Homo sapiens: one gene and its partners. The protein of the gene in region 3 purifies or fractionates together with the protein of the main gene of each other region. This does not show direct contact. Each region holds a gene or a part of one and is shown on either strand. Other genes may lie near its edges. The genes, in order: DNAAF1, CFAP418 and XPNPEP3.

The links.
Region 1: the proteins of XPNPEP3 (region 3) and DNAAF1 purify together in Homo sapiens (affinity purification with mass spectrometry; one large-scale study listed by BioGRID and IntAct). This does not show direct contact.
Region 2: the proteins of XPNPEP3 (region 3) and CFAP418 purify together in Homo sapiens (affinity purification with mass spectrometry; one large-scale study listed by BioGRID and IntAct). This does not show direct contact.

The regions. Positions count from the first base shown.
Region 1 is NC_000016.10:84,172,768-84,176,422, reverse strand, and holds part of DNAAF1 (dynein axonemal assembly factor 1), read right to left. Parts: intron 1,755-3,655; coding exon 1,701-1,754; coding exon of another isoform or gene 1,695-1,700; intron 1,071-1,694; coding exon of another isoform or gene 731-1,070; exon of another isoform or gene 491-730; coding exon 124-490; intron 1-123. UniProt on the Homo sapiens protein: Cilium-specific protein required for the stability of the ciliary architecture. Plays a role in cytoplasmic preassembly of dynein arms. Involved in regulation of microtubule-based cilia and actin-based brush border microvilli.
Region 2 is NC_000008.11:95,255,700-95,259,354, forward strand, and holds part of CFAP418 (cilia- and flagella-associated protein 418), read right to left. Parts: intron 1-3,655. UniProt on the Homo sapiens protein: May be involved in photoreceptor outer segment disk morphogenesis.
Region 3 is NC_000022.11:40,884,602-40,888,256, reverse strand, and holds part of XPNPEP3 (xaa-Pro aminopeptidase 3), read right to left. Parts: intron 1,945-3,655; coding exon 1,742-1,944; intron 1-1,741. UniProt on the Homo sapiens protein: Catalyzes the removal of a penultimate prolyl residue from the N-termini of peptides, such as Leu-Pro-Ala. Also shows low activity towards peptides with Ala or Ser at the P1 position.

The DNA of each region.
Region 1 (3,655 bases), on a different chromosome or scaffold from region 3:
TCCTGGGTGACCCCTCCAGCAACATGAAAGCTCAGGGTAAGGCTGAGTGACTGCCCTGCCCCACCCATCCCAGGCCGGGGAGCCAACATTGTCTCCACTGTGCTCTCGGCCCCACGCTCTTACCCGGAGAAGAGGCTGCAAGGAAGTCGCTGTCCCTGTCTCCACTGGAAGTGAGTGGTGCAGCATCTCTTTGGCAGGTGGGGGGCATCAGTAGCTGGCCAGAGGGGTCCTCGTCGCTGAGCTCCTGGATCAGGGGTCTTGGGGACTTGGTGTCTTGTTTTCGGATTTCCAAGTCCCTCTTAGCTTCTTTTTTAAAGATGTCTGTGAAGGGCACCCGAGCCGCCTTTGAGGTGTCTTTAGAGACTGCAAATATATTTGACAGAGTGTCTGTGGGGAGGTTTTCCAGCACAGGGAGTGACGTGTAGTCCAGTTCAGGGTCACTGTCATCACTCAAGCTCGAGATGACCTCAATCTTCGGAAAGCACATATTCTATTTACAGAAGAAAAGGTGTCTGAAAGTTTCTGTTTTCACAACAGAATCGCTCTACAATGCACCATGCCAGTTCTGCTTTTTCACCCAATGTCACAAAGTATTCTGTTGCCACATCCAAGAAAGGCCCAAGGGAACACAGGACTCTGAAAGTTAGGCCTGGGGGTGGCCACTCCCTGGGCACAGCTCATGTCTATGCCCTTCTCTCTGCCCTCTGCTCCCCCAGCCACTGGCTATTCCTCACCCTCCTGGTACCTGAGAGGGCGCACCCCTGAGCCCTGGGCTCTGCTTGGCATGCCCCTGAACCCCGTTTCCTTCACAGACTCTCTGGGACTTAGCTCCTTGGACAGCAGGCCCCCCACAGTAACTGTGTCTGTTTTCTTTGCTGCTGAGCTCGTGCTCAGAGATGATGGCTGATGCCTCCTTCTCCCTCAGGGTACGGGTCTGGCACGTGTGGGCTCCTGGTAATGCCAGTAATGGCCTCTGGGTGGAGTAGGGTCACGTCACTCTGAGAGAATTCCCCATTGTGCCTCACAGACTCACCCCTTTCTTTCCCCTCTCCTGTTTTCATTTCCTTCCCCTATATTCAGACAGACATTCATAGGATGGACATAGAAATACATCTTAATGACAGAAAGTACTTTCAGCTAACTATGCACTGTACTCAGCTGTTACAAACCAGCAATAGATTTTCAAGTGGTTCATCATAAAATCTTAAAGAAATTGAACAAGAACAAATGGCATTTCCTTCAGCAAGGTGAAAATATGGGGGATGTGGGCTGGGTGCGGTGGCTCACGCCTGTAATCCCAGCACTTTGGGAGGCTGAGGCGGGTGGATCACTTGAGGTCAGGAGTTCGAGACCAGCCTGGCCAACATGGAGAAACCCCATCTCTACTAAAAATACAAAAATTAGCTGGGCGTGGTGGCTCATGCCTGTAATCCCAGCTACTTGGGAGGCTGAGACAGGAGAATTGCTTGAACCCAGGAGGTGGAGGTTGCAGTGAGCCAAGAACACACTATTGCACTGCAGCCTGGGTGACAGAGCCAGACTCTGCCTGAAAAGAAAAGAAAAGAAAAAGAATATGGGGGAATTCAATGCTTTATGCACAGGGAACATTTTACTTTCAAGTTTAGGAGAGAAACGGTAAACGACAAGAACGAAGGTGGAATTAAGCTGCCTGTGGGAAAATGGTTTCTAATGACCTTAACCTGGTCTTCCAGAGATTTGCCTGTTTCATCATCATCTTCCAAGTCAGGTAGGTCCTGAAAGAGCAAGTGAGCCGCACATCACCAGGGAGGTACACGCACTGTCAACGTTCTGATAGGCACGATAAAGGCAAACACGCAGTCAACCCAGCCTTAGTTACAGTTACTCAAATCACTCAGGTGACTCGCCTGCCTGTTCCCCACCAAAAGGAACTCTAGATACACACAAAGCAAGCGTTGCCACCTCAGGTGTCTGGATCTAATAAATGAAAGGGAACTTGCAAGGTGTGACGTGTTTAAAGAATTTCCACATCTTTTTTCTGCTTTTTTATTAAGAGACACAGCCAGTTCATCTTGGGGGAAATAATGGGACCCAAACCAAATGCACCTCTGTACAAACTAGTCCGAAAACTCTATGTGGTATAAAAGTAATATATTTTGTACCTCCCCAAAACTTGTAGGACTTTTTTGTTTTGTATTGTGGGTGTTTGTTCGGTATCTTTGTCCATAACAACCAGTGCGTGGTTGGGGAGGCAGCATAGTGTGTGGTTGGATGCATGAACTGGAGCCACGGTGCCTAGGTTGTTACTCCCCCACCACCATTTTCTAGCTGTCTGGCTTTGGGCAAGTTGCCTAACCTCTCTGTTTCTCATTTTCCTCATCTGGGAAATTGGGATGATAATAGTATGTACTGCTTAGAGTTGTAGGAAGGGTTACATCAATCAATACAAGTCATGCTTAGAATGGTGTCACCCATATAATAAGAAACCAATTAACATTAGCTATTAGTGTTGTAGTTATCTATATGGTCAGTTCTCAAATGTGAGAGATAAATTGCCCAATTATGTCCCTTTCTTTTTCTTTTTTTTGAGACAGAGTCTCGCTGTGTTGCCCAGGCTGGAGTGCAGTGGTGAGATCTTGGCTCACTGCAACCTCCGCCTCCCAGGTTCAAGCAGTTCTCCTGCCTCAGCCTCCCGAGTAGCTGGGATTATAGGCACCTGCCACCACGCCCAGCTAATTTTATTTTTTTTATTTTTTATGTTTTTGTATTTTTAGTAGAGATGGGGTTTCACCATGTTGGCCAGGCTGGTCTCAAACTCCTGACTTCATGTGATCCACCCACCTTGGCCTCCCAAAGTGCTGGGATTACAGGTGTAAGCCTCCACACCTGGCCTTTGTTTCTTTTTTTTACATAGCTCCAGAAAACTAGAAACCCACTGTGAATTCTGACCGTGATCACTTTAACTCTTTTTTTCTTTTTTGAGATGGAGTCTCGCTCTGTCGCCCAGGTTGGAGTGCAGTGGCGTGATCTCGGCTCACTGCAAGCTCCACCTCCCAGGTTCCTGCCATTCTCCTGCCTCAGCCTCCCAAGTAGCTGGGACTACAGGTGCCCATCACCACACCTGGCTAATTTTTTTCTATTTTTAGTAGAGATGGGTTTTCACCATGTTAGCCAGGATGGTCTCGATCTCCTGACCTCGTGATCCAGCCACCTCGGCCTCCCAAAGTGCTGGGATTACAGGCGTAAGCCACCATGCCTGGCCGATCACTTTAACTCCTACTGGGCCATGTGAAATTCTGAAGTTTGAACATTAGAAACACCAGTTTAGAAGAAGTTTAACAAGGAAGTGGGCAGGGGACCACCTCTCCAAGGTATAAGGTCAGAGGTACCCAGAAATGCCTCTCCTATTCGTGCCCCATCAAAGGACAGTTCTTGGGGGGTTGTGAGACAATGTGTGAATTCCCATGGTACCATTCTTGTGGGCCTAAGCATTTGAGACTGTCAACAAAATGGGAAGAGCTTCAGGGAAGAGTGACAGGCAAGGCTGCGATCAAACATTCACTCAAGGGGATGGGACACTGAACCGTCACACCTCCATGAGCCAGAAGGCCAGTGAGAGCCTAAGCTACCTGCTGGGCGGTGTCCACGGAGGGGGGAAAAGATACAATGTATAAAG
Region 2 (3,655 bases), on a different chromosome or scaffold from region 3:
TTTGATGAATTTAACACAAGTACCTCAATCTCTTCATTTATAAAATGGAGGTAAAAATTCTTGATCAGCATCTTGGGTTTTTCTCTTGTGGAGCAGGTAAGTCAATATGCATATATAAAAAGTGCTCTGGACAGTATAAAGTACTTCACACATAAAATTTGCATATGCAGATGAACACATGTGTTTGTCTTTCTATGGGTGCAAATTCTGTTTCATGAAAGGGGCAACTAATAAAAAATCTGTGAATACAAACATTTACCTGCGCATATATATGCAACTGGTATCTCTTCTTACAGCTGTGCAGGAGGTAGAAATCAGGTATAATTGATTTCGGCATCCCACTTGGACTAATAGTATGTGATAGGAGCCTCGAGCTATGAAAACAGGCTGTTCTTTGGTTTACTGAAATTCCATCTAACATAGATTTTGTCTGTGCTACAACTAAATCAAAGTACGTACAAAATATTTCATACATAAGAAAATCTTAATGAAATGTTTACTTTTTAGAAGTAAACCAGAATGTATTTTTTTAAAAGATCATTTGTAAAAACAGAAGGCACCTGTAATTATATGTATTTCCTGAGATAAAATGGAAAACTAGTAGTAGAATAAAGATTCTTGTCCCTGAGATATAACGTAACAAGAAAGCAGGACTAATGGATGAGAAAGACACCTTAATTAGAACCCAGTGTGCCTGCAGTACCTAGCTGTCTTTTGCACCATAGGCATAGTTTTCATGTATTATTTCATTTAATCCTCAGAGTATCTCCATGAAATATGTTTAGTTTTTAAGAGTGAGGAAACAGGTTTTAGAAGATAACATCCCTTCTTAAGGCTTCAGAGCTTGTAAGTGGCAGAGTGAGGCTTTGAACTCAGGCATTCTGTCATCAGAGCCCTTCCATTTCAGGCCACAGGAGTAATCATTTGCTTCTTTGTTCCTTACTGGCCAGTGTTTTGCCTTTTATTGATAAGCTAGCACAGGGTTTAGGACATGGGCATTCAATGGATTTAAAAAATCGAAAAAATTTAAATAGAAAAATCAATCTGCAGTGTGTGAATTAAACAGATAAGGCAGCAGGAGACATGCATTAGAAGGGAGTGTTGTTCCAGATAGGGAATAAATGTAAATATACTCAGACACAGAAAAACATAAGTGGAAAGTACAGAATGACAAGCATCCCAGTGGCAGTGGAATATCTGACCCAGGCTTTAATTGGAGCTGAAGGAACTAAAGAGAGAAGAGGAACAACAAGGATAACAATTTGGTAAAGCAAATAGTGAGTTTAGAGTTAATGTGAGACAAATGGCAACTCTCACTTCCCTTCTGAATAGAGGAGAGGCACTCAGAATAGTATTTTAGGGATATTATCTTGAATGCTATATGTGGGTGATATTAGAAAAGATGTAAGTGGATGATAACTGGGAAACTGCTGCTGTGGCTCATGGGTGACTTGAGAGATGCCTGGAATAGAGGAGGCATGGCTCTGAAAATGACGGAGACAAGTCCCAACTGAGTTGAGACAGGCAATTTAGGACTGACAGCAACAACACTACCTCTACAGGCAGTTTGTATCTCTAATTTTTTTGTACAGAGAGTCCTCAACACATGGTGATTCAATTACTATTAATTCTTCTTTATAGCTCTAACAGTAGGTAACATTCCAGTGGATTTATATTAGCCTGTTGGCTGCCTGGTGTTCCCATATAAGGCTTCTCCAGACTCCTAATTTCACTTTTGTCCTATAGCCCTACCTTCTGGGCATTGTCCTTCGATGTAGGCTGGCACCACCACAACCCTCCAACAATGTTTTTTTTAACTCCCACTTCTATTATTCAATATAATTAATTTGCCCCAGTGATGTTTTGGTCAATGACGGACCACATATACAACAGTGGTCCTATAGAATTATAACGGAGCTAAATAATTCCTATTCCTAGTTACATCATAGCTGTCCTATATAGCACAATGCTTACTCATGTGTTTGTGGTGACGCTGATGTAAACAAACCTACTGAGCTGCCAGTTGTATAAAAGTAGTGCATACAGTTATGTATAGTACATAATACTTGATAATGATAATAAACTATGTTACTGGTTCATACTTTTACTATGCTATACTTTGAATCATTATTTGAGAATGTACTCCTTCTACTTATTAAAAAAAGTTAACTGTAAAACAGCCTCAGGCAGGTCCTTCGGGAGGTATTTCAGAAGAAGGCACACTGTTACTATGAGATGACAGCCCCATGCGTGTTGTACCCCCGCAACAAAGACCTTCCTGTGGCGCAAGATGTGGAAGTGCAGGACAGTGATATGGATGACCCAGACCCTGTATAGGCCCAGGCTAATGTGAGTGTTGTGTCTTCATTTTTAACAAAAAAGTTTAAAAAGTGAAAAACAGAGCTGGGCGCAGTGGCTCACGCCTGTAATCCCAGCACCGTGGGAGGCCGAGGAGAACAGATCATGAGGTCAGGAGATGGAGACCATCCTGGATAACATAGTGAAACCCCGTCTCTACTAAAAATACAAAAAATTAGCCGGGCGTGGTGGCGGGCACCTGTAGTCCCAGCTGCTCGGGAGGCTGAGGCAGGAGAATGGCGTGAACCTGGGAGGCGGAGCTTGCAGAGAGCCGAGACTGCGCCACTGCACTCCAGCCTGGGCGACAGAGCGAGACTCTGTCTCAAAAAAAAAAAAAAAAAAAAAGTAAAAAACAATGAAACAATAGAAAAAAGCTTATAGAATAAGGATACAAAGAAAGAAAATATTTTAGTATAGCTGTACGATGTATTTTAAATTGTTATTAAAAAGAATCAAAAGTTAAAAAAATAAAAAAATTTATAAATGAAGTTTCAGTAAGCTAAGGTTAATATTATTAAAGACATTTAAAAGTAAACTTAGTGTAGCCTAAGCTACAGTGTTTATAAAGTCTATACTAGTGTAATATCCTAGGCTTTCACAGTCACTCACCACTCATTCACTCACTCAGAGCAACTTCCAGTCCTGCAAGCTCTGTCCATGCTAAGTGCCCTATACAGCTGTACCATTTGAAAAATCTTTTACAATGTATTTTTGCTGTACCTTTTTAATATTTAGATACACAAATATTTACCATTGTGTTACCACTGCCTACTGTATTCAGTGCGGTTACATGCTACACAGGTTTATAGCCTAGTAGTATGTAGTAGGCTAGTATACCACCTAGCCTAGGTGTGGAGTAGGCTATATCATCTAGGTTTGTGTAAGTACACTCTATGATGTTTGTACATGAGGAAGTCATAATGACTTATGACTAATGACATATTTCTCAGAATGTATCCTTGTTGGTGACACTTGACTATACAACAGTTAGCCCTCCAGAAATGTGGTCAACATGCAATCATATAACTTAGGCCATTCTTTCTTAAAAAATTAACAGAAAATAAGTGTTTTAGAAATAATTAGATAAAAGTATTTTAATAAAGTAAGTTAGGTAAGTAGACCTCTGCCAAAAATAGAACCAAAAGCAGCAGGAGAGTAGGGTTTGCTTAAAGCCAAACTGTTTGCCCACATTATGAAAATGCCAATGGAATGTGCTAGGACTATGGGGCTAATATGGGTTTGGGGTAGGTGGCATCATGACTATAAGACTGCCCAGAAAGAGGTACTGAGTGAGAAA
Region 3 (3,655 bases):
CAAAAGTGAAATTCTAATGGAAGAAATTTAAAAACATTATGCTAAGTGAGATAAGCCAGTCACAAAAAGCCAAATGTTGTATGATTCCATTTATATGAAGTAGCTAGAATAGGTAGATTCACAGAGAAAGTAGAGGTTACTGGGGGCTGGAGGAGGGGAGAATGGGAAGTTATTATTTATCTGTACAGTTTCTATTTGGAATGATGGAGAAAGTCGGGAAAAAGTGGGCACAACAATGTGAATGTACTTAATGTCATTGATTTGCATACTTAAAAACGGTTAAAATGATATATTTTATGTTATGCACATTTCACCACAGTAAAAAGATTTTTTTAAATTAAGTCAATGGCCAACACCTTGGAGAGAATAAATGAAATAGGGAGTTTTGGGATAGTTTCTATCAGTTTGCCAGTGAGATTTATGGTTTACACTTGGTCTCTGTGAAAACTCTCGGGGGGCTTTACTGTTACGTAGCAGGAATATGATTATGTGACCAAAAAAACAAAAATCCCTAGCTGAGATTCCATTTTGGAGTCTCTGATTCTGAGGTAGTCTGTTGCATGTGCCATGGACTGAATTGTGTTTCCCGCAGAATTAATGTGTTAAAGCTCTAATCTCTATGTCTTTAGGAGGTAGTTAAGGTTAAATTAGGTAATTAAGGGTGGGGCTCTAATTTGATAGGACCATGGCCTTGTAAAAAGGCCCTCTTTCACTGTCATGTAAGGACACAGCAAGAAAGCCGCCTTCTGTAAGCCGGGAGAGCCCTCACCAGAAATGGACCATGATGGCACCTTGATCTCGGACTTCCAGACTGCAAAATTATGAGACAATACATTTCTCTTGTTTAAGCCATGCAGACTGTGATATTTTGTAATGGCAGCCTGAGCAGAGTATGACAACACTGGTGATTCCTAATCTGTAAGAGAAAGATACATCCTGCCTGGCCCTCACCTAGGGAGGACCAGAGAAGCCTGCACCTGGCTTCTCTAGACTCCTTGCTTTGAGACAGCCATTGGCTGTGATATATATCCTTACTTTCATATTATGGTTATTTTTTACCCTTTTCCTATAATAAACTGCAGATCTGTAAGCATTGTCACTTTGGGTCCTGAGTCTTTCTTAGAACCAAACTGTTTAACTGACACTATTAGTGTAACTATAAGGAAAAGAAACAGTATTAATTTCTGTCGTTCTAAGGAGAAATAATTAAGATTGATGGGTAAAAGAACCATCTTAACAGAAGGCAGATTTACTTTGTCTTGCAAGGTATTAAGCAAGTCTCTAGGTATGTTCACTACACACTGGAGCAGAAGCTAGATGCCATTCTGCGGTGAGGAGACTGCTGCATTGGGTATACGACCTCAAGAGCTTACGATTTTTCCAATCTGGAAAAAACTTTTTCTTTTTTTCTTGTTTTTTTTTTTTTTTTTGAGATGGAGTCTCGCTCTGTCGCCCAGGCTGGAGTGCAGTGGCCCGATCTCGGCTCACTGCAAGCTCTGCCTCCCGGGTTCACACCATTCTCCTGCCTCAGCCTACCGAGTAGCTGGGACTACAGGAGCCCGCCACCATGCCCGGCTAATTTTTTATGTTTTTTTAGTAGAGACGGGGTTTCACCATGTTAGCCAGGATGGTCTCGATCTCCTGACCTCATGATCCACCTGCCTCGGCCTCCCAAAGTGCTTGGATTACAGGCGTGAGCCACCGCGCCCGGCTGGAAAAAACTTTTCAATAGGAATCATACCTGTGATGTCAGCTTCCCAGCAATCTGCATTCGTTCAATTTCTGCAGGAGACTTGATCAGCCGGAGGCGCTGTATCAGCTGCTGAACACCCCGAACCTTGTTCTTGCTCTTGGCTTTGGCCTCAGTCAGGGGCTGCATATAGTCAGAGTGAAGCTGTGCATGTGAGGGCCTCATCCAGTCATACCAAACCATGTTCGTCTCAGCTTAGAATGAGAAGCCGAAAAATAAATTTAAAACAAAACTACCAGCAACAAGAAATATCAACTGTCATAACGACTTGAACAAGAGTCAAAACTATAAAACCTGTAACGTGGAACTCTAAAGTGTTGAGACTTAAGACTCTCTCAGGACTGAAGCAATAAAGGTTTGATTATAAATCATTAGAAAGGTCATTCCCTGGAAATGGCAAGATATTCTAAGACTGAATATACAGCTTTTCTGCCCCTAAACTTCAGTGTTCTTTATAAAGGATGATACGGGACTAAAGCTTTAGTCAAGCTTTGATTTTCTCTCTTTCTCTCTCTCTTTATTTTTGAGATGGAGTCTTGCTCTGTTGCCCAGGCTGGAGTGCAGTGGCACAATCTCAGCTCACTGCAACCTCCGCCTCCCAGGTTCAAACGATTCTTCTGCCTCAGCCTCCCAAGTAGCTGGGACTACAGGTGCCCGCCACCATGCCCAGCTAATTTTTGTATTTTCAGTAGAGATGAGGTTTCACCATATTGGTCAGGCTGGTCTCGAACTCCTGACTTGTGATCCACCCGCCTCAGTCTCCCAAAGTGCTGAGATTACAGGCGTGAATCACCATGCCCGGCCTTCATTATTAAACAATTAGAACAACTGTTCTTCACCACCACTTACTGAGCTAGAGGCACTTGTTGAATAATTGCACACAGAAGGACAGAAAAACATACTCAGATCATGACTTTATGGGTAAAGTGTCCCATCCTTTCACATAATGATCTCAGTACTAGAGGAAAGGGTTCTCCTCCCATTCTGGAGCAATTATTCATTGCTATGGAAAAACTACAGTTGATATTTCCTCACTTCTCCCTTTGCATCTGCTATACATTCTCTTTGTAAACAATCACAGTTCAGCTTTCAACTTTAGAGACCTAAGGAAATGGTCTGTATTTGCCTAAGATATACGATATAAAGGCTCATTATAAAAATGATTTGCACTTAATATCAGATCTACATTTGTTCTTTTTTTCTAACAGTAGGCTACAAACAGTATTCCTAACAATCCAAGTGAGAAGGTCTGAATATTTTATATGACTAAAAAGTACTTTGGGGAAAGTAGAGGGGAAAAAATCCAGAAAACTTTGATTGGATATGCACTGATTCTATGATTCTATGTCCTATGTGATTCTATGTCCTACATATTTTCATTTTTAAAATAAAAATGGTTCTAAATATATACTACATGGGAAACACCTTCCTACTTACGATAGATGGAAATTTAATTGTCGTGTAATTTTTTTTTTTTTTGAGACGTAGTCTTGCTCTGTCACCCAGGCTGGAGTGCAGTGGCGCGATCTCGGCTCACTGCAACCTCCACCTCCCTGGTTCAAGCAATTCCCCTGCCTCAACCTCCCAAGTAGCTGGGATTACAGGCGCATGCCACCACGTCCAGCTAATTTTTTCGTATTTTTAGTAGAGACGGGGTTTCACCATGTTGTCCAGACTGGTCTCGAACTCCTGATCTCAGGCAATCCACCTCCCTTGGCCTCCCGAAGTGCTGGGATTACAGGCGTGAGCCACTGCACCCGGCCAATTGTTGTAATTTTTAAAAAGTAAAACAATCTCTACTACACGTTCAAAGTGTATGAAATCATAGCTCACTTTTTTAAAGGTTTTTAAACCTTTCAATAAATATGATTTTAGCCAGGCACGGTGGCTCACGCCTGTAATCCC